Homo sapiens: one gene and its partners. The protein of the gene in region 1 interacts with the protein of each later gene in a pairwise test. Each region holds a gene or a part of one and is shown on either strand. Other genes may lie near its edges. The genes, in order: JPT2, RASA4, SEPTIN2 and SLC25A20.

Region 1 (5,894 bases):
CCACAGTCCCCAAGCTTGACACCCCTGGCCAGGGAGAGCAGCACAGCACGGTGGGGAGAGTGTCCTGTGGCCAGACTGCCTGGGTCAGGGAGTCTCTGCTCAGCTGCTCACTAACTGTGAGACCTTGGACAAGTTATGTCAACCTTCCTTCATATCCATCTTCTTAACTTTAAAAAGGTAACAAACAGTCCAAGTGCACTGGCTCACACCTGTAATCTTAGCACGGTGGGAGGCCAAGGTGGGAGGACTGCTTGAGTCCAGGAGTTCAATACTAGCGTGGGAAACAAGTGAGACCTTGTCTCTACAAAAATATTTTAAAATTAGCCTCTGGTCCCGCTCCTCAGAAGGTTGAGGTGAGAGGACTGCCTGAGCTCAGAAGTTGGAGGCGGTGAGCTGTGATGGTGCCACTGCACTGTAGCCTGGGTGACAGACTAAGATCCTGTCTCAAAAAACCAACAAAACAAAAAAAAGGTAATAAATAATCATACCTACCTAGGGTCACTGGTGAGGCTAAACAAGTTAACTCAGGTGACGTGGTTAGAATAGTCCTGGCCTGCTGAGTAAGCCCTCAGCAATGCTGCAGGGCTGTGTCAACAAGCACGTCAGGACCACGGGGCGGATAAAACTGTGTGTGCAACCCCCAGCCCCCACTGCAATGTTCCTGGCTGTGCTATAACGGCTGACTTTTTTTTTTTTTAATGTGACTCCAGCTTTTTAAAATAGAAGATAAAAGTAACTCAATTTGAAGTTTTTGGCCAAAGACATCACTCATTTTTAAAAAATAGTTAAACTGTGAAACATAACAGAAAAGTCTGTAAGACATTAACTATCACAAATAACTACAAGGCAGACACCAGGTAACCACTGCCAAAGTCATCGAGAACAGTGCCCGTTCCCAGAAACTCCTGTGTTCCTTCACTCTCACCCAAGGTTACCACACTCCTGAATTTTTTGGAAACCACAAACATTTTTACCACGTATACGTGCAATAGGTACTAAACAATGTACCTCTGCTTTTAACCTTCATAACTAGGTAGTCATACCACATATGTCTATTACCATTTTACTTGAAAAATAAATTCAGCTTTGAAGCAAGAAAACATGCTTAAATTCACTAATAATTGAAGATAAACTCGAGAGATGTTTTTTCCTCCTGCTAGATTTTTGATTTCCAAGGGCTCTGTGTTATTTTGTTTTTAAAAATATCATTTATTTATTTGGGAGATTGGGCCTCGCTATGTTGCCCAAGCCAGTTTCAAACTCCTGGGCTCAGGCAATCCTCCCACCTCGGCCTCCCAAAATGCTGGGATTACAGGCGTGAGCCACCGCACCTGGCCTACAAGATTTGTTTTTAAAAGCAAAACTAAAAGATAAATACTGCTGGTGCAAATAAGCACATACACAAGAATGGTAAACACCAGGCAATGCCCTGAAAAACCGGTTGGAACTATCTATCCATATTTTAAACTCATATATCATCTGATCTACCAATTCCATTTTGAGAAATTTATCCCAGTGGATACATTCAGGAAGTCAGTTTAAGGCATGGAATCTGGAGTCAGAAAAACCTCAATTCAAAGGCTAGCTCTGCCACCGACTAGCACTGCTACCGGCTAGGTCTGCTACCGACTAGCTCTGCTACGGACTAGTTCTGCTACCGACTAGCTCTGCTACTGACTAGCTTGGGATTTATGCATGCCAGTGACCTTTTCCAAGCCTGTTTCCTCCTCTGTGAAAGGAGCAAAACAACCTACTCCTAGTTATAGCGAACACCAAATGAAAAATACACATGCAAAGCACTTAGCACAGTCCCCGGTAAATATTAACAATTCATAGACGTTGGTCATCATTGCTAGAAGAGGAAGAACAATTCATGGAACATCTAAACCAGGTGACTAACAAAGAACACAGAGACTACTGAAGATTCACTGAAACACTGAATGGGAATTGATAAACATTCGATGGCTATGATGTGGTCGGTCACACACACTCTCGGCCTCTGCATACTTTTCTCAATCAAGCCCTGCAACTAGAGGGCTGTGGGGCTAGGTCTGTGTGACTAAGTGTAGAAAGAAGGCAGGACTCCAGATCTCGTTGGGTGGTGAACACAACTAGCAGTTTCCCTTTCAGGCTTCCCTTGATAATATACCATAAACCGTCTTCCAAGAGCACTGGAGAGATAGGAAAACTCCCAACAACCGTGAGAAGGACCATGAGAAGCAGGAACCTGGCATGGGGAGCCATGATGGCTGGCACCACACACTGTGACCAGGAGTAGAGGCTGGCTCACTAACCGCAAGGGGCCGGGCTCCCCACTGGGCATGAGACCATGTGGAACGGGCAAAGTGGTACCGCCTGCCTTCCATGGAGTGCTCTAGGAACAGCTCCAGACATGACTCTGCTGAGTAGGGGCCAAATGAGCAGATTCATACACCTGGAAATGGCTCAGATAGGATTCTATCTTGCATGCGATATATTATTCTGCTATCCTTGCTAAAAAGGACATGCAGGAGTCCCTGGGCCTAAATTCATAAACCGGAAACAACGAGAATGTTAGTCACTTAATAAGAAACACTCATTTCTCTAACAACCAAAAAAGCAACCAAACAGACCAAAAAAAGGCAAGCAGCAAACCTAGCTTCGGCCGGGCACAAGGGTGCATGTCTGTAATCTCAGCAATTTGAGAGGCCGAGGTGGGCAGATGGCTTGAGCCCAGGAGTTCGAGACCAGCCTAGGCAACATGGTTAAACCCTGTCTCCACAAAAAATACAAAAAAAAATTACCTAAGCATGGTGGCATACGCCCGTAGTCCCAGCCACTCAGGAGGCTGAGGAAAAAGGGTCACCTGAGCCTGGGAAGTCAAGGCTGCAGTGAGTCATGGTGGTGACACTGCACTCCAGCCTGGGCGACAGAGTGAGACCCCGTCTCAAAACAGACTAAAAACAAAAGAAAAAACTAGTTTCTGGATCTACTGCTTTTTTTCCTCTACATTTGGTCAATAAATATTGGTACCCCAAAACGGAGTGAGGTCGGGAGTGGATCTGGCTCTGATTCATGACCTGCCTGACACAGTGACACCTAAGCACGGCCTCTCAAACCTTCTAAGGATGGAAGAGACCATGCTTTCCCCTCTTGTACAGACGGGGGAAAGCGACTCAGGTAACCTCCACTGGGTGGTTATTCAACTGGACAGTCTATCAGCCAAGAGAAACCTTTTTCTATTTTTTTTTTTTTTTCTTTTTGAGATGGAGTCTAGCTGTCACCCAGGCTGGAGTGCAGTGGCATGAATTTGGCTCACTGCCACCTCCACCTCCCGGGTTCAAGTGATTCTCCTGCCTCAGCCTCCTGAGTAGCTGGGATTATAGGCGTGCACCACCACACCCAGCTAATTTTTGTATTTTTAGTACAGATGGAGTTTTGCCATGTCGGCCAGGCTGGTCTCAAACTCTTGACCTCATGATCACCTGCCTTGGCCTCCCAAAGTGCTAGGATTACAGGCATGAGCCACCACGCCCGGCTGAGAAACCTTTTTCTTTTTCTTTTTCTTTTTTTTTTTGAGACGGAGTCTCGCTCTGTCACCCAGGCTAGAATGCAGTGGTGCGATCCCGGCTCACTGCAAGCTCCGCCTCCTGGGTTCATGCCATTCTCCTGCCTCAGCCTCCTGAGTAGCTGGGACTACAGGTGCCCGCCACCACGCCCGGCTAATTTTTTTTCTTTTTTAGTAGAGATGGGGTTTCACTGTGTTAGCCAGGATGGTCTCGATCTCCTGACCTCGTGATCTGCACACCTTGGCCTCCCAAAGTGCTGGGATTACAGGCATGAGCCACCGCGCCTGGCCAAGAAACCTTTTTCAAAGAGTCCCTCCTACTGTAACCACTAGGAGGTTGGGTAAATACTGAAGAACTATGTAGATGTGTGCTAGATCAATTCTTCCTTGTTAAGAGTTTCAATCCCACTGACGATCTGAATAAAAACACTCTCCCTCCCTAGGAAAAATGTTTAAATGCACAATAATTTGCACGCAATTTCAGGAATCTCATGGGGGTCCGTGGAACAATTGGGAGCAGCTCCCTGGCAGGAACCAGAAGCCCCCGTCCACTTTTGTGTCCTCAGTGCCTGTATTCAACCAAAGTCTCCAGAACAGATGGAGAATTCAAGACTACTCAAGTCACCTTCAAGAGAGAAAGTACAAATCAGAACGTTTTCATTTTGGAAGAACTCTGATAACAAGTGATTACCTGAACCAGACAATATGGGAAAGGATCAGTATAAAGAAACAGAAAATATTTTCAAAAGAGAATCGTGGAGGCCAAAGGATTAAGGATTTCCAAAGGCCCATACCTGGGGGATTTGTCCTCTTGGGTATGTTCTGAGGTTCTTCTGTTGGTCCAAAAATATTAGATGCCATCCTATTAGGCCTGCTGGAAGGAGTAGCTTCTTCTGGACTTCCAAAAAGATTGCTCGATTCTCCTCCTGGGGGCTTCATGGCCCTACAAGCACAGAGTACATGCCAATTACTGATGGCAGACCTGAAAGCTTGTCACTGTGCAAGGATTTTGGCACAACTAGACAGGGTAAAAGTATTTTGTTTTTTTCTTTTTGAGACAAGGTCTCATTCTGTCACCCAGGCTGGAGCGCAGTGACGTGATTTTGGCTCACTGCAACCTCTGCCTCCTGGGCTCAAGTGATCCTCCCACCTCAGCCTCCTGAGTAGCTGGGATTACAGGCACCCACCACCACAGCTGGCTAATTTTTTGTATTTTTGGTAGAGACAGGGTTTTGCCATGTTGCCAAAGTTGGTCTTGAACCCCTAAGCTCAAGTGATCTGCCCACCTTGGCGTCCCAAAGTGCTGTGATTACAGGTATGAGCCACCATACCCAGCAAAAGTATTTTCTTAACATCTACTGAGAAATCACATACCACCATTAGTTAATACTGGTATGACTAGTTTACAGACGCCAGACTACTTCTGCTGCTCTTTAGTTTCCCTTAAAAGTATTCTTTTTTTTTTTTTTTTGAGATGGAGTCTCGCTCTGTCGCCCAGGCTGGAGTGCAGTGGCACGATCTCAGCTCACTGCAACCTCTGCCTCCTGGGTTCAAGTGATTCTCCAGCCTCAGTCTCCTGAGTAGCTCAGATTACAGGTGCCTGCCACAACACCTGGCTAACTTTTGTTTGTTTTTTTTGAGACGGAGTTTTACTCTTGTTGCCCAGGCTGGAGGAATGCAATGGCGCAATCTCAGCTCACCACAACCTCCGCCTCCTGGGTTCAAGCAATTCTTCTGCCTCAGCCTCCCACGTAGCTAGGATTACAGGTATGCGCCACCACACCCAGCTAATTTTGTATTTTTAGTAGAGACGGGGTTTCGCCATGTTGGTCAGGTTGGTCTCGAACTCCTGACCTGGGGTGATCCACCTGCCTCGGCCTCCCAAAGTGCTGGGATTACAGGTGTGGGCCATCGCACCTGGCTCTTGAATCACTTTTTATTGTAAAAACTTAAACTTAAGAACTAATAAGGAATTGCCACAAAGCTCTATTTCTAGAGCACTATCTACATTAAAAACCGGTGAAACGCTGAATTCATAACAACTGGAAAAACTTTTAAATGCATTTGAGAGAGAGGCTTACTGAAATTGAGATTTAAACCAGTGAGTGGCACATGCTCTCTCACTAGTCCTAAGCAATGGGACTGTCTGTGATCCCAGACGTTTAGAAACGAAGTCAGCCCTCTGTATCCACGGGCTCTGCTTCCATGGATTCAACCAACCTCAGATCAAAATGTCAGAAATAAAAGGATGGTTGCATCTGTACTGAACATCTACAGACTTCTTTTCTGTCATTATTCCCCAGGTGATACGGTGTAACAACTATGTGCATAGTATTAGGTATTATAT
Region 2 (6,643 bases), on another chromosome or scaffold:
GTAACCTCCCCCTGCCATCATTTGAGAGCCCCCGCCTCCTGGCCAGGTGTGGTGGCTCACACCTGTAATCCCAGCACTTTGGGAGGCCGAGGTGGGCAGATCACGTGAGGCCAGGAGTTCCAGACCAGCCTGGCCAACATGGTGAAACCCCGTCTCTACGAAAAATACAAAAATTAGCCGAATGTAGTGGTGGTGTACAACTGTAATCCCAGCTACTGGGGAGGCTGAGGTAGGAGAATCCCTTGAACCCCGGAGGAGGAGGTTGCAGTGAACCAAGATCGCGCCACTGCACTCCAGCCTGGGCAACAGAGCAAGACTCTGTCTCAGAAATAAATAAAATAAAATAAAGAGCCCCCCCACCTCCAGGGAGCCCCCTGTGAATACCCCAGCTTGCATCCCATCAACCCAAAGCCAGGGGACTCCAGGTGCTAAGAAATCAGGCCTCTGAACACCCCAGGTGCTGGGCTGGGCTGCAGGATCCAGGAGCCATACAAGGAGCTCAGAGGAGGCAGGGAGAGGTCAGTACTGACTGAGGCAACAGGGGACCTCCGTGGGCTGTCCCCCACTACTGGGCTGCTACTGCTTCCAAAGGCCTGGAAGCAGGACCCGAGTCCTGGTGTGCAAGGACTATGAAGAGCCGGGTGGCTGGATCAGAGGTGGGGCAAGAGGACGGTATTGAGAGCAGGCCGAGGCCAGATTTAAGGACCTGGGCCCAACCATGGTCCCCAGTGGGCTGCTGGGACCCAAGCCCTGCCCAGTTCCTTCTTCGCTAGTGTTGAGGCCCCTAGGCTGCCCACCTCTCTCATTTCTCCTTTCCCGAGCCAGTTGCCACTGGCCTGTCTGGCTACTTTCGGGGCCTCTATATTTAGGGCCTTGGCAGTTTCTAGGCTGTGGAAGGAGGAGGATCAGGGAAAACCCCAAAATAGCCTTGGGCCAGTCCCCAAGGCCACTTGGTGTGGGAGGCAGTGGGTCACTGGTCATCGTGAGACTTGGCTCATGCCTAGGTACGTGGGGACGAGAGACAGTGGGAAGAGGCAGGGCAGGAACAGGCAGGCTCTGAAAGCTAGCAGTGATGGGGAATGCAGCTGCGCTCTGTGCCCTTTAGAGGAATAAAAACCCATGAGTAGAAGTGGCAGGAAGGCAGCTGGCAGCTGTGTGAGGACAGCTTCCTCCTTGGAACTGTCTCAGTCAAGATGAGCCACTATGAGAGGTGGTAAGCTCCCCGTCCTCAGAAGTATGCAAGCCCTGGCTGGAGGAGATGCTACTCAGAAGATAGGCGGGGTGCTGGTGAGGCACAGTGAAACTCCAGTACTCAGTGAGGGCCTCCCATGATCTCCAAACCCCTGCCCGACTCTGCAGCCAAATGCTTTGCATAGGATTTCCGAGGCTCAGTCTCACTGAGCCCAGCCGCAAGCTTACAGCCGCGGGCAGGCTAGAATTCTCAGCCTGTCGGCAGCAAAGGCAATCTGAATCCTGACTTCTCTACCTACCCTCTTGGCAAATGGCTTTCACTTCCTGAGCCTCAGTTTCCCAATGTGCAAACCGAGGATGTCTATCTTATAAAGCTAAGAAGAGGATTAAGTGGGGGAAGTCCTCAACACCTCTTATTCTCCCTACTATGGACCCGGTGCCAGGATGAATGAGTCACAGTCCCTGCCCTCACAGTCAGCTGGGACAGGCACCACTTGACGGAGGAACTGCCACACCAGGGGCTTCCTCCTGCCACCCAGAGTGCTGGGGGGCGAGCCCAGGAGCCAGGAACTCTGCCCAAGTGCACCAGGGAATGCCCTGGAGAGGAGAAGTTTGAGAGGAGTCCTGAACATTGAATAGGAGTTTTCTGGAGGACTGAAGTGGAGTGCTTGAAGGCAGAAGTCCCCACACATGGGCGAAAGCAGAGATGTGAAGGGTAGTAGCCCAAATGTGAGGGACTGTTTATGGGATGGTTTAAGAGGCGGCTGACAGGTCAGAGCTGTGTATGCAAGCCACAGGGGAAGATGGGGGGTTGCAAAGGAGACGTGAGTAGGGCAGGCAGGGGGGCAGGGTGAGGATCGAGATCCCAAGGCACCCCTCCACTGTAGATGGAACCCCTTTGCCCAGAGGCAAAGCACTGAGCAGGGAACCAGGCACTGGGCTCCCAGGTGGGCATACTCCAAGAGCTTGGCTGCCCTGGGCTGGAGAGAGCCTGGAGCCAGGCACTAGGGCCAGCTGCTGTGGGGATGAGGAGGGAGGCGACAGACGGAGGGGCTGCTCCTCCCAGCTGCCACCAGCCAGAAGAGGCCAAGATGACCTAGTTCCTAGTGCCAGTGGTGGCAGGGGGTGGGGGATGCTTAAAGGCTGGGCCTGGAGGCTGAGACCCTTCTCAGAGCTCCTCTGCCTTCCCAGCCCACAGACCTCACTGCCAGCTCCCACTCCACCTCCCTCCAAGCCTCCAAGCACAGAAACCCACCTAGGGATGCCCACCGCCCTCCCTTCCCCATTGTCATGGTAACTGCTGAGCTGGGCCTCATCAGACCCAGGGGGCCTGGAACTGGCACTGCTCTCGGTGGTGGCGCGCTGAGCTTGCTGGGAAGCTCACAGGGGCCACCACACATATGTGTGAGCAGAGTGCCTGCCCCCCACCCTGCTCCACCCCCTCGCCCATGCTAGCCACTTCTCTGCATCCAGGAGCCCGGGGCGCCCAAGGGGTGGGGAACTGCAGCTCCGCAGACTTTGGACTCTGTTTCCTCCAGGCTCCACTTTTCCCCCTCCCACCCTCCTCCTCCAGGCAGCCAGTGCCCCTTGACCTTTGAGCTTTCCCCCTCTTCCTCTAGAGGGATTTCAACCCCTAGTTTAAAGAGGGGAAACTGAGGCTCTAGGAGCAGGGAGCTGCCTAAACCCTGTACATGAGGAAGGTGGTGGCAAGACCAAGATGGTGGGCCAGGGGTCAGGCAGCTCAGCCCTGGGACCTACTGAGAAGAGTGGAACAAGGGGCCCCTGAAACCTCCCCAAATCGAGCCAGGGACCAGGGGAATCCCCAGATGTCAGTGCCTGTGAGAAGCCCTAGACTCAAGACCCTGCTCTGCCTGCCACTTGGAGCCAGCATTTCACTTCTCTGAACCTCAGTTTTCTCATCTGTAAAATGGAACGGTGAGAACTGCCTTTCGGGGTGGTTGAGAGGATTAACGGGATGGCTCAGGTGTAAAGCCCAAGGCACAAGCGACAGTTACTACCCTCCTTCCCTCCCCCACAGTCCTGCACCTGTCCTGGCCTCCTGACCTGTTCTCACTTTTCATGCCAGTCCCTCCTACCCGAGTGCACAGCAGGAAGCCCGGGGACAGCCCCTGGGCCCCAGCATGTGCTTCAGGTGCACACTCCGGGGCATTAAGGGCTCTGGAACTACTGAGGAAGACCCTTCCTTTGCGGGGGACACCCCACCCCCTCCAACCCCACCCCGGGGGCAGATCACCAAGACGTCTCCCCTGGCATGTCACCAGGCTCCAGCTCCTGTCGTATCAAAGCCCCTTCCCCTCGTGAGCCGCGGATCGCTGACAAATTCTCGCCCCCTCCCTAGTTCCCAGCCCCCAGCCCTCGGTGACACTTCCCCGCCCCCCGGTTGTCACCCCGTCTGGTGCTCGCAGAAAATGTCACTGTCCCCATTTTCCCCGCCGATCCCCCACCACGGCCGCACTCCCGCACCCTCTCCGCTGCTCTTGTGGGTGGACCCCGGAAAGGTCAGGCGTCCTGGGGGGCAGTGCCCCTCCCCGGAAAGTTGGGGCTCCCACCCCCGGCCGCGCTCACATGTCCTTGGCGGGAAGGTTCTTCCCCTCCACGATGCGGATGTACAGCGAGCTGCGCTTGGCCATCGCGGGGTCCCGGCTCGGGGGAAGCCAGACACCGGGGTCCGGGGTGGCGGGCGGCGGGCGCTGGACTGGGCGCCGCAGGTGGGGCGGGCCGGGGAGGAGGCGGGGGCGGGGGCGGGGCGGCGGGGGCGGGGCTTCGCTGCCACTCCACTCACCCCGCCCCCGCCCCACGTGCGGGGGACACTGCGCCCGGGCCGGCCAATCCGCGACCGGGGTTCCCCAGGGCGGGGAGGGGCCGGCCGGGGCCGCAGCTCTCATTGGCCGTCTGGGGCGTGAGGGGCGGGGCCTGTGAGGAGGCGCTGACACTCGCCGGGCAGCCGGCGCGGTGGCTCGAGGGGGGCGCCCCTGGAGGAGCGGGTGGGGGACACTGCAACCTCCACCTCCCGGTTTCAAGCAATTCTTCTGTCTCAGCCTCCCAAGTAGCTGGGATTGCAGACACGCGCCACCACGCCCAGCTAATTTTTGTATTTTCGGTAGATACGGGGTTTCACCATGTTGGCCAGGCTGGTCTTGAACTCCTGACCTCAGGTAATCTGCCCACCTCGGCCTCCCAAAGTGCTGGGAATACAGGCATGAGCCATCGTGCCTGGCTGTTTTTATGTTTTTTAGAATCAGAAGAAAAAAAATATGTATTTTTTGTATTGGTTGGTTTGTGTGTGTATGTATGTATGTATGTATGTATGTATGTATGTATGTATGCATGCATTTGAAACAGGGGCTTGCTCTGTTGGCTGAAGTGCAGTGGTGCAATCATAGCTCACTGCAGCCTCAATCTCCTGGGTTCAAGCAATCCTACCACCTCAGCCTCCCATGTAGCTGGGACTACAGATGCATACCACCACGACTGGCTAATTTTTTTTATTTTTAGTAGAAATGGGGGGGTCTCATTATGTTGCCCAGGCTGGTCTAGAACTCCTGGCCTCAAGTTATCCTCCTGCCTTGGCCTCCCAAAGGGCTGGGACCACAGATGTGAGCCCACCATGCCTAGTCAAACAGGAGTATAATAGTAATGAATATGTAATAATGAATCTGACCTGACTGGTATCAGTCAGTCTTTATGCCAAAGCAGTTGTAAAATACACATTTGAATATCTTTTTTTTTTTCTTTTTTTTGGGGTGGAGTCTCGCTCTATCACCCAGGCTGGAGTGCAGTAGCGCAATCTCAGCTCACTGCAACCTCTGCCTCCCTGACTCAAGGCATTCTCCTGCCTCAGCCTCCCGAGTAGCCAGAGCTTCAGGGACCTGCCACCACGCCTGGGTAATTTCTATATTTTTAGTAGAGATGGAGTTTCACCAGGTTGGCCAGGCTGGCCTCAAACACCTGACCTCAGGTGAGCTGCCCACTTCGGTCTCCCAGAGTGTTAGGATTACAGGCGTGAGCCACCGTGCCTAGCCGTATTTGAATATCTTAACCCATATAAGTCAAACATGCCTAGGGCTCACAAAAGTTACAGTGCATCCTGGCACAGGAGAGGAGGCAGCTCTTGAGTTTCAGTGCATGCTTTTGATATTCACTATAGGTCAATGTCGTTGAAAGAAAAAGTGTTTGAGGCTGGGCACAGCGGCTCACGCCTATAATCCCAGCACTTTGGGAGGCTTGAGATGGGAGGATCACTTGAGGCCAGGAGTTCAAGCCCAGCCAGGGCAACATAATGAGACCCCCCCCCACCTTTGCTACAAAAAATAAAAATATTAGCCAGGCATGGTAGTGTGTGTCTGTAGTTCGAGCTACTCAGAAAGCCGAGGCAGGAAGATTGCTTGAGCCTAGGAGGGGAGGCTGCAGTGAGGTATGATCGCACCACTGCACTCCAGCGTGGGCGACAGAGCAAAACTCTGTCTCCAAAAACAAAAACAAAAACGAGGCCAGGCGTGGTGGCTCACACCTGTAATCCCAGCACTTTGGGAGGCCGAGGTGGGTGGATCACCTGCGGTCAGGAGTTCGAGACCAGCCTGGCCAACATGGCGAAACCCCATATCTACTAAAAATACAAAAATTAGCCGGGCGTGGTGGCAGGCGCCTGTAATCCCAGCTACTCTGGAGGCTGAGGCAAGAGAATTGCTTGAGAACCCGGGAGGCAGAGGTCGCAGTGAGCCAAGTTCGCACCATCGCACTCTAGCCTGGGTGACAAGAGTGAAACTCAGTCTCAACAAACAAACAAACAAACAAAAAAAGCAAGGAAGGAAATTCTTACACATGCTAAAAGATGGATGAAACTTGAAGACATAATGCTAAGTGAAATGAGCCAGTTACAAAGAAAGACAAATAGTGGTTGCTTCCACCTATGGGAGGTATCTGGAATAGTACAATTCACAGAAGCAGAAAGGAGAGTAGAAGTTTTCAGGGGCTGGAGCGGGGCAGGGAAAGCGAGTTGTTTGTTGAGTGTAGGGTTTCAGTATTGCAAGGTGAAAAAGTTCCAGAGATGTGCATATAGTTAATACTACTGTGCTGTCCACTTAAAAATAGTGAAGATGGGCCAGGGGCGGTGGCTCACGCCTGGAATCCCAGCACTTTGGGAGGCCGAGGTGCGTGGATCGCCTGAGGTCGGGAGTTTGAGACCAGCCTGGCCAACATGGTGAAACTCTGTCTCTACTATAAATATAAAAATTAGCTGGGCGTGGTGGTGCACGCCTGTAGTCCTAGCTATTCAGGAGGCTGAGGCAGGGAGAATCGCTTGAACCTGGGAGGTGGAGGTTGCGGTGAGCTGAGATGGCACCACTGTACTCCAGCCTGAGCGACAGAGAGAGACCTCGTCAAAAAAAAAAAAAGCTTAAGATGGGCTGGGTGTGGTGACTCATGCCTGTAA
Region 3 (5,894 bases), on another chromosome or scaffold:
TCAAAACAAACAAAACAACCAACCAACCAACCAACCAATAGTACTTTCCTACTTACCTCAGCTTCTTTTTCCAGCAAGATCTGGTCTTTATTCATGTCCTCATTCTCCACTTTCCTAAGAATCGAAAGAAATCAGAATCATAACACTGCAACAAATAGTTATTTGCTACCCCCCCAAAAAATTCTACTTTAAAATTTAAAATGACATGTATTTATCATTTCTCTTTTTATATTGAGATGGTGTCTCACTCTGTCGCACGGGCTGGAGTGTAGTGGCATGATCTTGGCTCACTGCAACCTCCACCTCCTAGGTTCAAGCAATTCTCCCACCTTAGCCTCCTGGGTAACTGGCATTACAGGCACGTGCTACCACGCCCAGCTAATTTTTTTTGTGTTTAGTAGAGATGGGGTTTTGCCACGTTGGCCAGGCTGGTGTTGAACCTCAAGTGATCCGCCCACCTTGGCCTCCCAAAGTGCTGGGAATACAGGCATGAGCCACCACGCCCAGCCTATCATTTTTCTAATTAAAGATATAATGAATAAAAAGGGAACAGAATGATTTTAAAAAGTTCGAACAACATGAAATGGAACATTCAAGAGACTTTTCTTACTCTAAGCTTGAGCGACAACACTTGCTGTTACCCACTCAAAAATAGGTATTATCTGAAGAATTTGCTTTGAGATGTTATTCTTTATTAATGCGAATGTAGTCACCACATTTAAGGAGCAGGATCTGCGTGAGTGAACGAGGGGCAAAGGGTAAGCTCCCCAAGCACACCTGAGAACTGTGCTCTGCAAAGCACACTAATCTCCATCTCAGGGCCAGCGCCTACTCAGCTTCCAGAGGGTGGAATTTTCTTGCTGCCTCTAAAATCTTTCTTAATGTCTCATTTCCAAACTCATAATTAGACTTCAATGTGTACAACATATGTATCTAGAAATCCATCAAATTATTAGAATGTGAGAATTTTAATGAATTACAACACAGGAAACTTTTGTTGTTGAGACAGGGTCTCACTCTGTTGCCCAGTCTGGAGCGTGGTGGTGCGACCATAGCTCACTGCAGCCTGGACCTACTGGGCTCAAGGAATCCTCCCCCTAGTAGCTGGGACCACAGGCATGCACCACCACATCTGGCTAATTTAAAAAAAATTTTTATAGAGGCGAGGTCTCCCTATGTTGCCAGGGCCGGTCTCAAACTACTGGGTTCAAGTGATCCACTTGCCTTGGCCTCCCAGAAAACTTATATAAAAACATATTAGAATGGTTAAAAAGAAAAGGTGAGTGAGGATGGCTGCAGGACTTTGCGAGGATCGAAGCTGCTGCTTCAACGGCCACTGGCTGCTTGGATGCCACTCATCCTGGCCTCACCCTTAACTCAGGTGCTGCAGTTTCCTAATGGCAACAAGTTTGTCCTCACGTACAGAGTGATGCTTTTGAAGGAGAACTCGACACAAGCCTCTGGCCTTTCCATCTAAAGTTTTTGTTTGTTTTTTGAGACAGGGTCTTGTTTTATTGCCCAGGATAAAGTGCAGTGGTGCAATTATGGCTCACTGCACCTCCCAGGCTCAACTGCTCCTCCCAACTCAGCCTCCCGAGTAGCTGGGATTATAGGTGTGTGCCACCATGCCCGGCTAAATTAATTTTTTTTTTTTTAAATTTTTGTAGAGATGGGACTTCACCATGTAATCTCATGGTCTCAAAACTCCTGCGCTCAGGCAATCTACCTTGCCTTGGTCTCCCAAGGTGCTGGGATTACAGGCATGAGCCACCGTGCCTGGCCTAAAGTTTTTACGTGCATATCATTAAATGTACTTTTTCTTAAAAAGGCTAAAAGAGCATAATTTGATTAAATTAACAACTCTTTTATAATAACTTTTGAGTAGGAAACCAAACCATGTTGCTTAATGGTCAAGAAGGCTGAGCTGAACACATAGAGGAGGAGGAACATTGTGGCTCAGGGTGACACAATACAGAGAAAGGGGCACAGTGTGATGACCTGCCGCCTCTCTTGAGTCTCTCAGAACGGAAGTTTTCATAATGAAGGTCCTGGGTCACCTCCTGGAGATCCTGCATGTGGGTGCTGAAAGAGAAGAGGAATGCACCAAGGTGGCATCATGCACATGACATTCTCATGAGAAAAAAAACCACCCATCAAGTACATAGAAGAAATAGCAGTAATTAAAATTACTTGGTAAATTGTACATAAAGCTGCTGGGATTTCAGGATAATGAGTATGGCCGTGGAAATGTCTAGTGAGGTGTAGCTCTCCCTTTCTTCCCCAATAAATGATATACAAACACAGGTCTCGACTGAGTCTCTCAGGGGGATTTCTGCTAGAGGCACTGCCACCCCTGTGTGAGGCCATCACTACCACAGGATGGCAGACAGATTTTAAGAGATTTTCAGGTCAACAATGTCTGAAATAGAAGACACTCTTCTAAAAGGACTTACGGAAAATGTAATGAAAATATTCATGCCTCCTATAACTCAAAATTTATATATTACTCTCATATGAGAAAAAAGAGTTGGTTAGCTTAAGCTATGTACAAGACCATAAAGTGAAGGACTAATATTCTGGATCCAAGAATATTAGTCAGCAACTTAACCTTCCATTCATCTTATGAAGCACTCTTAAAAAATTTTTTTTAATTGCCTAGCTTATTCAAAATACTTAAAAGCAGGCAAGAATGAGCAAACATTGTAACACGTTCCTATTGATTCAGGATCCAGGGAAATGGATTGAGATAGCCAAGGAGTGGCTCACTCTACCTCATTGTGAGAAACACACAACTGACACTAAAGTAAAGTCCCCAAACCCTGTCTTCAGCCTCTACACCCCCCTCAATAATGGGGATCAGGATAGCCACAAGGATGCAGCCCTGGAGGGGCTGAGTGCGCTTAACTTCTTACACAACCATTAAATTGTGTTTGACACAGCTTGGATGGTAACATGCTTACTTATTTTAACTCACTACAAATTGCTAAACTAAGTGAGACATGCGGCAAATATGTAGCGACTTTCAGCTAATCAAAACACTGATTTATCCACATCAGTCATTCTTTGAAGTCCTCTGATTAAAGAGGTATAGTTTAAGCAATACTCTCAGCCTGTTCTTTTTGGTTTTTTTTTTTGAGATGAAGTCTTGCTCTTGTTGCCCAGGCTGGAGTGCAGTGGCGCAATCCCGGCTCACTGCAACCTCCACCTCCAGGTTCAGGCGATTCTCCTGCCTCAGCCTCCCAAGTAGCTGAGAATACCGGCACCCACCACCACACTCGGCTAATTTTTTTGTATTTTTAGTAGAGACAGGGTTTCACCATGTTGGCCAGGCTGGTTTCACCATGTCGGCCAGGCTGGTTTCACCATGTCAGCCAGGCTGGTTTCAAACTCCTGACCTCAAGTGATCCGCCCGCCTGGGCCTCCCAAAATGCCAGGAGTACAGGCATGAGCCACCGCACCCGGCCTCAGCCTCTTTTTTCAAGAGTAAAAGCAATGTATGCATGTTACAATATGTGAAATTTATTTATTTAATTTATTATTTTTTTGAGACAGAGTCTCGCTCTGTCGCCCAGGCTGGAGTGCAGTGGTGCAATCTTGGCTCACTGCAACCTCTGCCTCCTGGTTCAACAGTGATTCTCCTGCCTCAGCCTCCTGAGTAGCTGGGATTACAGGTGCGCACCACCACGCTTGGCTAATTTATTTTTTGCACTTTAAGTACAGATGGGGTTTCACCATGTTGGTCAGGCTGGTCTTGAACTCCTGACCTCGTGATCTGCCTGCCTCAGCCTCCCAAAGTGCTGGGATTACAGGTGTGAGCCACCACGCCCAGCCATGAAATTCATTTTTAAAGAAGACTATTTTTGTAGTCAGGTCTGTAATTGCTATTAATAATAAATGGAAGACACAAAAAGCTAACCAGGGCCATACAATGAGTCTCAGACTGGTGAGCAGGGCACCAGGGGTGGCTCAGCCTGGAGCAGTGGACCAGGGGCCTATACAGCCTGACTGTTTCCTTACCAGCACTGGGGACCTCTCAGACCCCAGTTTAGGTTCTAGTCTCCTTTTCTCCTTTTAACATCAAAGATGTAAGATCTTAGCAAGAAGGAAAGGTACTGCAGGCTACAGGCCACAGGCAGAAGCGCTAGTTTAGTAGTGCCACAGAGGGCCCCTGGGTGAGGGTTCTCAGCACCAATCTGCAACAGCCCCACACCACTTCTGCGATGTGAGAAACACTGAGGGCGGCAATGAAGCTGCTGGCTGCAACTATCTTGGGGGCCAAGTGTACACCCCGTCTGAAATCCATATTCTTCACGCCAAATTCTGCCAGAAGGAACACACCAAATGTCTTACATGAGCATGGTTCTCAGCTTCAGAAAGTCATTGTGCTCTGGGTTCTCCACTTCCACAACACCCCAGGGGTAGAGGCGGCCTCTGACCTTCTTTCCTTTGGCTTCAATCAACTGATTGGATCCAACCACAGAGAATGGGATGCTAGCCTAGAAAGAGACACACAGAGTAGACAGGCTCCACACAGGGAACCCCAGAGTTCACTGGCAACACGAGAACATTAGCACAGACTTAACACATTGCTGTTGACTACAAAACTGAATTGGAAAGCTGGGGGTATGTAACATTTTCTTGAAAAGTGTCAGATACTTTCTACATGGGACAAATTGTACGAAAACAAATTAAACCTACAATAAAATTTCTAAGCTTTAGGTGATAGCTGTATCAAATTTTTTTTTTTTTTGAGACAGAGTCTTGCTCTGTCGCCAGGCTAGAGTGCAGAGGCGCGATCTCGGCTCACTGCAACCTCTGCCTCCTGGGTTCAAGTGATTCTCCTGCCTTAGCCTCCCGAGTGGCTGGGACTACAGGTGTGCACCACCACATCCACCTAATTTTTGTATTTTTGATGGAGATGAGATTTCACCATGTTGGCCAGGATGGTCTGGAACTCCTGGCCTCAACTGATCCATCTGCCTTGGCCTCTCAAAGTGCTGGGATTATAGGCATGAGCCACTGCATGAGGTCTTAAAATATATTGAAAGCAAAAATACTCTCGTAACTGAACATACCCAGGCAATCTCTCTCACCTCAACATGGACAACAGTAAACAGGAGTTATTTATGTTGTGGATCTGAAGCCAGTTCTTACCTTGAGAAGTCTAGTCTGCTCTTTAAAATCTTCATCTTCATCTGATTCTGCATCAGGTAAGTGATAGATTTTGATGTTATGTTCTTCAATTTCATCCAGAATCTGAGAGAATGACAAAACCAGGATCAATTTTAGCAAACTGCGTATGTTATTGTAGCCAATTCTAGCTCATCTTGTAAGAAATATATTGGAAATCATACAAATGTCAATAATCAAACTGATGACGAAAGTTACTGTCAAATAAATTTATAAAACTGCGGCCGGGTGTGGTGGCTCACGTCTGTAATCCCAGCACTTTGGGACGCCGAGGCAGGTGGATCACAAGGTCAGGAGATGGAGACCATCCTGGCTAACATGGTGAAACCCTGTCTCTACTAAAAATACAAAAAAATTAGCTAAGCGTGGCAGTGGACGCCTGTAGTCCCAGCTGCTGGGGAGGCTGAGGCAGGAGAATGGCGTGAACCCGGGAGGCGGAGCTTGCAGTGAGCTGAGACCACTGCACTTCAGCCTGGGTGACGGAGCAAGACTCCGTCTCAAAAAAAAAAAAAAAAAAAAAAAATTTACAAAACTGCTAGAAAGGTATTTATACTTGAATTTTGAGGATCCTCTGTACAGAATAAAAATAACATTAGCAATAATGCACCACTACCCTCAATGTACAAAGCAGCAGGAAGACTAACGATAGCCCCAGCACAACAGCTAAAATGGAAATCACACCACAATCAGCCTCAAGAAGGGTA
Region 4 (5,894 bases), on another chromosome or scaffold:
AGTGGGTCATGAAAAGGCTCTATGGAAGGTGGTGCGTTAGAACAGGCATTCAAGTGCTGGGTGAGTTCAGACTGAAGGAGTAGGGAGACCCAGACAGTCTGATGGGAAGGCAGGAGTGAAGGTGAGTGTGGCTTGCAAGTGGGGATCATATTATAAAATAAGACAACCTAGGCCGGTCACGGTGGGCTCATGCCTGTTAATCCCAGCACTTTGGGAGGCTGAGGCAGGTGGATCACCTGAGGTCAGGAGTTCGAGACCAGCCTGGCCAACATGGTGAAATCCCATCTCTACTAAAAATACAAAAAAAAAAAATTGGCTGCATGTGGTGGCAGGTGCCTGTAATCCCAGCTAATTGGGAGGCTGAGGCAGGAGAATCGCTTGAACCCACAGGGCGGAGGTTGCAGTGAGCTGAGATTGTGCCATTGCACTCCAGCCTGGGTGACAGAGTGAGACTCCTTCCCAAAAACAAAACAAAACAAAACAAAACAAAACAAAACAAAACAAAAACCACCTGCAAAGGACTTTAATGTTCTTGCTGGTTTGGATGGCTGATATCCTGTTGAGACAGGTATGAGGTATGAAGTGTATATAAAATCACAAAAAGGCAGCCTTGGCAACATGGCAAGACCTCATGTCTATAAAAAATACAAAAATTAGCTGGGCATGGTGGTGCACATCTGTAATCCCAGCTACTCAGGCGGCTGAGGCTGGAGGATCGGTTGAACCTAGGAGTTTGAGGCTGCAGTGAGCCTTTGCACTCCATTCTGGGCAACAGAATGAGACACTGTCTCAAAAGAAAAAAAAAATCACAACAAGGTATTAGTCAGAATTTTTTTTTTTTTTTTTTTTGAGACAAGACTCTCCCTCTGTCACCCAGGCTGGAGTACAGTGGCAGGATCTTGGCTCATGGCAACTTCCATCTCCCGAGTTCAAGCAATTCTTTTGCCTCAGCCTCCTGAGTAGCTGGGATTATAGGTGCCCACCACCATGCCTGGCTAATTTTTGTATTTTTAGTAGAGATGGGGTTTCTCCATGTTGGGCAGGCTGGTCTCAAACTCGTGGCCTCAAGTGATCCTCCGGCCTTGGCCTCCTGAAGTGCTGGGATTATAGGTGTGAGCCACTGTACCTGGTCTAGTCAGAAGCTTTGATCCATTTCTCTCTCTCTACTAACTAGGGGAGGTTATGCCTGACTATGGGAGATCTGAAGGACAATATGAGGGATTTTGGATGTAAAGGTATGGTGGCCTCTGGGCATTTCTATTGTGTCCCATAAACCCCTCAGACTTACGTGTCACCTCTGTTGCCCAGAGAGGGACTTCCTTGGTTTGATATGGAAGGCCCTGACAAATACAAGAATAATAAATTCTAAAGAAATTATTAAAAAAATGGTAAAAATGATGATATAGAAGGACCTGACAAATACAAGAATAAGAGATTCCAAAGAAATAAAGAAACAACATGGTAAAAATGATGTTTTGGAAAGGTTAGTATAATAGCAACCTTGAGAAGGATTTGGAAGCAGAACAGTGAGCAGGAAAAACATCCAGGAAGGGCTGGGCGCGGTGGCTCACGCCTGTAATCCCACTTTGGGAGTCTGAGGCGGGCAGATCACCTGAGGTTGGGAGTTCAAGAGCAGGTGACCAACATGGAGAAGCTCCGTCTCTACTAAAAATACAAAATTAGGCCAGGCATGGTGGCTCACGCCTATAATCCCAGCACTTTGGGAGGCTGAGGCGGGCAGATCACCTGAGATTGGACGTTCGAGACCAACCTGAGCAACGTGGAGAAATCCCATCTCTACTAAAAACACAAAATTAGCTGGGCTTGGTGGTGCATACCTGTAATCCCAGCTACTTGGGAGGCTGAGGCAGGAGAATCGCTTGAACCCAGGAGGCAGAGGTTGCGGTGAGCCCAGATCGCACCATTGCTGTGCAGCCTGGGCGACGAGTGAAACTACATCTCAAAAAATAAATAAATAAATAAAAATAAATATACAAATGCAAAATTATCCGGGAGTGGTGGCACATGCCTGTAATCCCAGCTACTTGAGAGGCTGAGGCAGGAGAATCGCTTGAACCTGGGAGGCAGAGGTTGCGGTGAGCCAAGATCATGCCATTGCTCTCCAGTCTGGGCAATGAGTGAAACTCTGTCTCAAAACAAAACAAAACAAAACAAAATTCAGGAAAAAGACTGCAGAAGTAACTGGATATATCAGTTATCTATTGTGGTTTACCAGTTTCCTCCAATGAGGCAGGAGGATCACTTGAGCCCAGGAGTTTAAGGCTGCAGTTAGCCAAGATGGCACCACTGCATGCCAGCTTAGGTGACAGAGCAAGACCTTGTCTCAAAAAAACCCAAAAAACCAAACCAACTTACCCCAAAACTTAATGGCTTAAAACAACAATAAACATTTATCAGGGCCGGGCCGGTGGCTCATGCTTGTAATCCCGGCACTTTGGGAGGCCGAGGCGGGTGGATCACCTGAGGTCAGAAGTTCGAGACCAGTCTGGCCAACACAGCGAAACCCTGTCTCTACTAAAAAAAAAAAAAAAAATGCAAAAGTTACCTGGGTGTGGTGGCACGCACCTGTAATCCCAGCTACGCGGGAGGCTGAGACAGGAGAATCACTTGAACCCAGGAGGCTTGTGGTGAACTGAGATTGAGCCACTGCACTCCAGCCTGGGTGACAGAGCAAGACTCTGCCTCAAAAAAAAAAAAAAAGACAATCCAATTAAAAATCGGCAAAGACTCCAGCCTGTAAGACCCTGTCGAGAGAGAGAGAGAGAGAGAGAGAGAGAGAGAGAGAATCTTCTTCTTTTTTTTTTTTTTTTGAGAAGGAGTCTCACTCTTGCCCAGGCTGAAGTGCAAAGGTGCGATTTTGACTCACCACAACCTCTGCCTCCCGGGTTCAAGCAATTCTCCTGCCTCAGCCTCCCAAGTAGCTGGGATTACAGGTGCGTGCCACCACACCTGGCTAATTTTTGTATTTTTAGTGGAGACAGGGTTTTGCCATGTTGGCCATGCTGGTCTTGAACTCCTGACCTCAGGTTATTGACCCACCTCAGCCTCCCAAAATGCTGGGATTACAGGTGTGAGCCACCGCGCCTGGCCTCCTTTTTTTTTTTTTTTTTTTTTTTCTTTTTTAAAGAGACTGGGTCTTGGCTGGCCATGGTGGCTCATATCTGTAATCGTAGCACTTTGGGAGGCTAAGGCAGGCAGATTGTATGAGTCCAGGAGTTCCAGATCAGCCTGGGCAACATGGTGAAAACCCATCTCTACAAAAAAACCAAAATTAGCCGAGCATGGCATGCACCTGAGGTCCCAGCTACTTGGGAGGCTGAGGTGGGAGGATCACCTGAGCCTGGGAGGCGAAAGTGGCAGTGAGCCAAGATCATACCACTGCACTCCAGCATGGGCGAGACAGTGAGACCCTGTCTCAATAAATAAATAAAAAGAGACCAGGTCTTGCTCTTTTACCCAAGCTGAAGTGTAGTGGCACCATCACAGTTTTCTGTAATCTTGAACTCCTGGCCTCAAGTGATCCTTCCACCTCTGCCTCCCAAAGTTCTGGGATTACAGATGTGAGCCACCACACCCAGCCATGGACCTAAATAGGCATTTCTCTGAAGATGGGCTAATAAGCATGTGAGAAGTTGTTCAGTGTCATTATCCATCATGGAAATGCAAATCAAAATCACAATGACATACCACCTCATACCCAATATGATGGCTTAAAAAAAAAAGTTAGATATAGAGCAATATAGTGAGATTCTGTCTCTACAAAAACAATAAAAATTAGCCTGGCATTGTGGTGTGCACCTGTAGTCCCAGCTGCTTGGGGGGCTGAGGTGGGAGGATTGCATGAGCCCAGGAGGTCAAGGTTGTAGTGAGCTATTGACCACACCGCCGCACTCCAGCCTGAGTGACAGAGTGAAACCTTGTCTCCAAAAAAAAAAAGTATATATATATAAAGATAATAAGTATTGAAGATATGGAGAAATTGGGACCCTCCTAGACTGCTTATGGGAATATAAAATGGTGCAGCCACTTTGCAAAACAGTCTGGCAGTTCCTCAAAAGGTTTAAACAGAGTTGACATATAAGTTAGAAATTATGCCAGTGGATAAATACCTGTGATGGTTAATTTTATGTGTCACCTTGACTAGGCCACAGAGTACCTAGGTATTTGGTCACACATTATTCTGAGTGTGCTTGTGAGGGTGGTTTTGGATATTAACATTTGAATCTGTGGACTGATTAAAGCTAATTGTCCTCCCTAATGTGAGTGGACCTCATCCAGTTGAAGGCCTAAATAGATCAAAAGGCTGACTGACACTTCCTGCAAGTAAGAGGGAACTCCTGCCTGAATACTTGAGGTGGGACATTAGTCTTTTCCCGCCTTCAGACTTGAACTGAATCATTGGTTCTTTTTGGGTCTCAAACTTGCCGACTACAGATCTTGGGACTTCTCAACCTTTATAATTGTATGAGCCAATTGCTTATAATAAATCTCTTGATATATATCTCCTGTTGGTTCTGTTTCTCTGGAGAATTCTGACCAATACAATACCGAAGAGAACTGAAAACATATATCCACACAAAAAACTTGTACACAAATGTTTATAGCAGCATTATTCATAATAATCAAAAAGTAGGAAAAACACAAATGTCTATGAACTGATGAATAGGCAGGCATACAAAATGTGATTTATTCATACGATGGGATATTATTTGCCAATAAAAGGAATGAAGTACTAATGAAATGAAAGAGAAGTTTGAATCCAGCAGGTTAAGTGAATGCCAAAGACATGTACAAGGGTACAGCCTTCCCTGTTCAGTTTGGCAGACAGTTGGGCCATTGCTGCTGACAGGCAGTTCTGATTCTGGTAGGTGACTGCATTTTAACTTCTGTTTTCAGGTCCGACTGCAGACACAGCCACCGAGTTTGCCTGGACAACCTCCCATGTACTCTGGGACCTTTGACTGTTTCCGGAAGACTCTTTTTAGAGAGGTTGGTATATGGTGCTGGGCATTCCTCTTACTCAGAACACATTCACGGGGTTGATTTGTTACCCCCAAGGAGAGTAGGTTAACTGTGTGGTTCTGCTGGACAGCTAGCTCACAGCTGCCGCTCCTTCACCACGCCACCCTGTGCCCCCCTGTTGTCATCTGCTTTGGAGTCTCTGATAGTTCTAGCTACTGTTTTATACAGATGACTAAGGCTAATAAAATGGTTCTCTCTTTTGGAAGATGGAATTTAGACGACGGAGAACTAGTGAGTAATAATTGAGATGTGAAATGGAAGAAAATGTACATCTGAGCTGGGTGTGGTGGCTCACGCCTCTAATCCTAGCGCTTTGGGGGCCAAGGCAGGTGGATCACTTGAGGTCAGGAGTTTAAGACCAGCCTGGGCAACATGTAGAGAGTGTCATCTCTACAAAAAATGCAAAAATTAGAGGGGCATGGTAGCGCATGTACATCTGTAGTCCCAGCCACTCAGGAGACTGAGGTGGGAGGATCACTCCACCAGGAGGTAGAGTTTGCAGTGAGCCAAGATTGCACCACTGCACTCCAACCTGGGTGACAGAGTGAGACCCTGCCTGAAAAACAAAAAAAGGCCAATCATGGTGGCTTACGCCTATAATCCCAGCACTTTGGGAGGCCAAGGTGGGTGGATTGCCGGAGTTCAGGAGTTCAAGACCACCCTGGCCAACATCATGAAACCCCGTCTCTACTAAAAATACAAAAATTGGCTGTGCACGGTGGCATGCGCCTGTAGTCCCAGCTACTTGGGAGGCTGAGGCACGAGAATCGCTTGAACCCAGGACGGGGAGGTTGCAGTGTAGGGTCCAGCCCTACGGGGCTTAGCGGATGTTTTCCCCATGTGTGGAGATG

The links.
Region 2: the proteins of JPT2 (region 1) and RASA4 interact in a two-hybrid assay, tested with the Homo sapiens proteins (one large-scale study listed by IntAct).
Region 3: the proteins of JPT2 (region 1) and SEPTIN2 interact in a two-hybrid assay, tested with the Homo sapiens proteins (one large-scale study listed by BioGRID).
Region 4: the proteins of JPT2 (region 1) and SLC25A20 interact in a two-hybrid assay, tested with the Homo sapiens proteins (one large-scale study listed by IntAct).

Annotation. Positions count from the first base shown.
Region 1 is NC_000016.10:1,684,035-1,689,928, reverse strand, and holds part of JPT2 (jupiter microtubule associated homolog 2), read right to left. Parts: intron 4,491-5,894; coding exon 4,342-4,490; intron 1-4,341. UniProt on the Homo sapiens protein: Nicotinic acid adenine dinucleotide phosphate (NAADP) binding protein required for NAADP-evoked intracellular calcium release. Confers NAADP-sensitivity to the two pore channels (TPCs) complex.
Region 2 is NC_000007.14:102,612,848-102,619,490, forward strand, and holds the start of RASA4 (ras GTPase-activating protein 4), read right to left. Parts: upstream 3,910-6,643; 5' UTR 3,843-3,909; coding exon 3,778-3,842; intron 3,699-3,777; exon of another isoform or gene 3,676-3,698; intron 1-3,675. UniProt on the Homo sapiens protein: Ca(2+)-dependent Ras GTPase-activating protein, that switches off the Ras-MAPK pathway following a stimulus that elevates intracellular calcium. Functions as an adaptor for Cdc42 and Rac1 during FcR-mediated phagocytosis.
Region 3 is NC_000002.12:241,342,354-241,348,247, reverse strand, and holds part of SEPTIN2 (septin-2), read right to left. Parts: intron 5,257-5,894; coding exon 5,155-5,256; intron 4,497-5,154; coding exon 4,351-4,496; intron 2,083-4,350; coding exon 1,999-2,082; intron 115-1,998; coding exon 57-114; intron 1-56.
Region 4 is NC_000003.12:48,891,096-48,896,989, reverse strand, and holds part of SLC25A20 (mitochondrial carnitine/acylcarnitine carrier protein), read left to right. Parts: intron 1-4,917; coding exon 4,918-5,010; intron 5,011-5,894. UniProt on the Homo sapiens protein: Mediates the electroneutral exchange of acylcarnitines (O-acyl-(R)-carnitine or L-acylcarnitine) of different acyl chain lengths (ranging from O-acetyl-(R)-carnitine to long-chain O-acyl-(R)-carnitines) with free carnitine ((R)-carnitine or L-carnitine) across the mitochondrial inner membrane, via a ping-pong mechanism.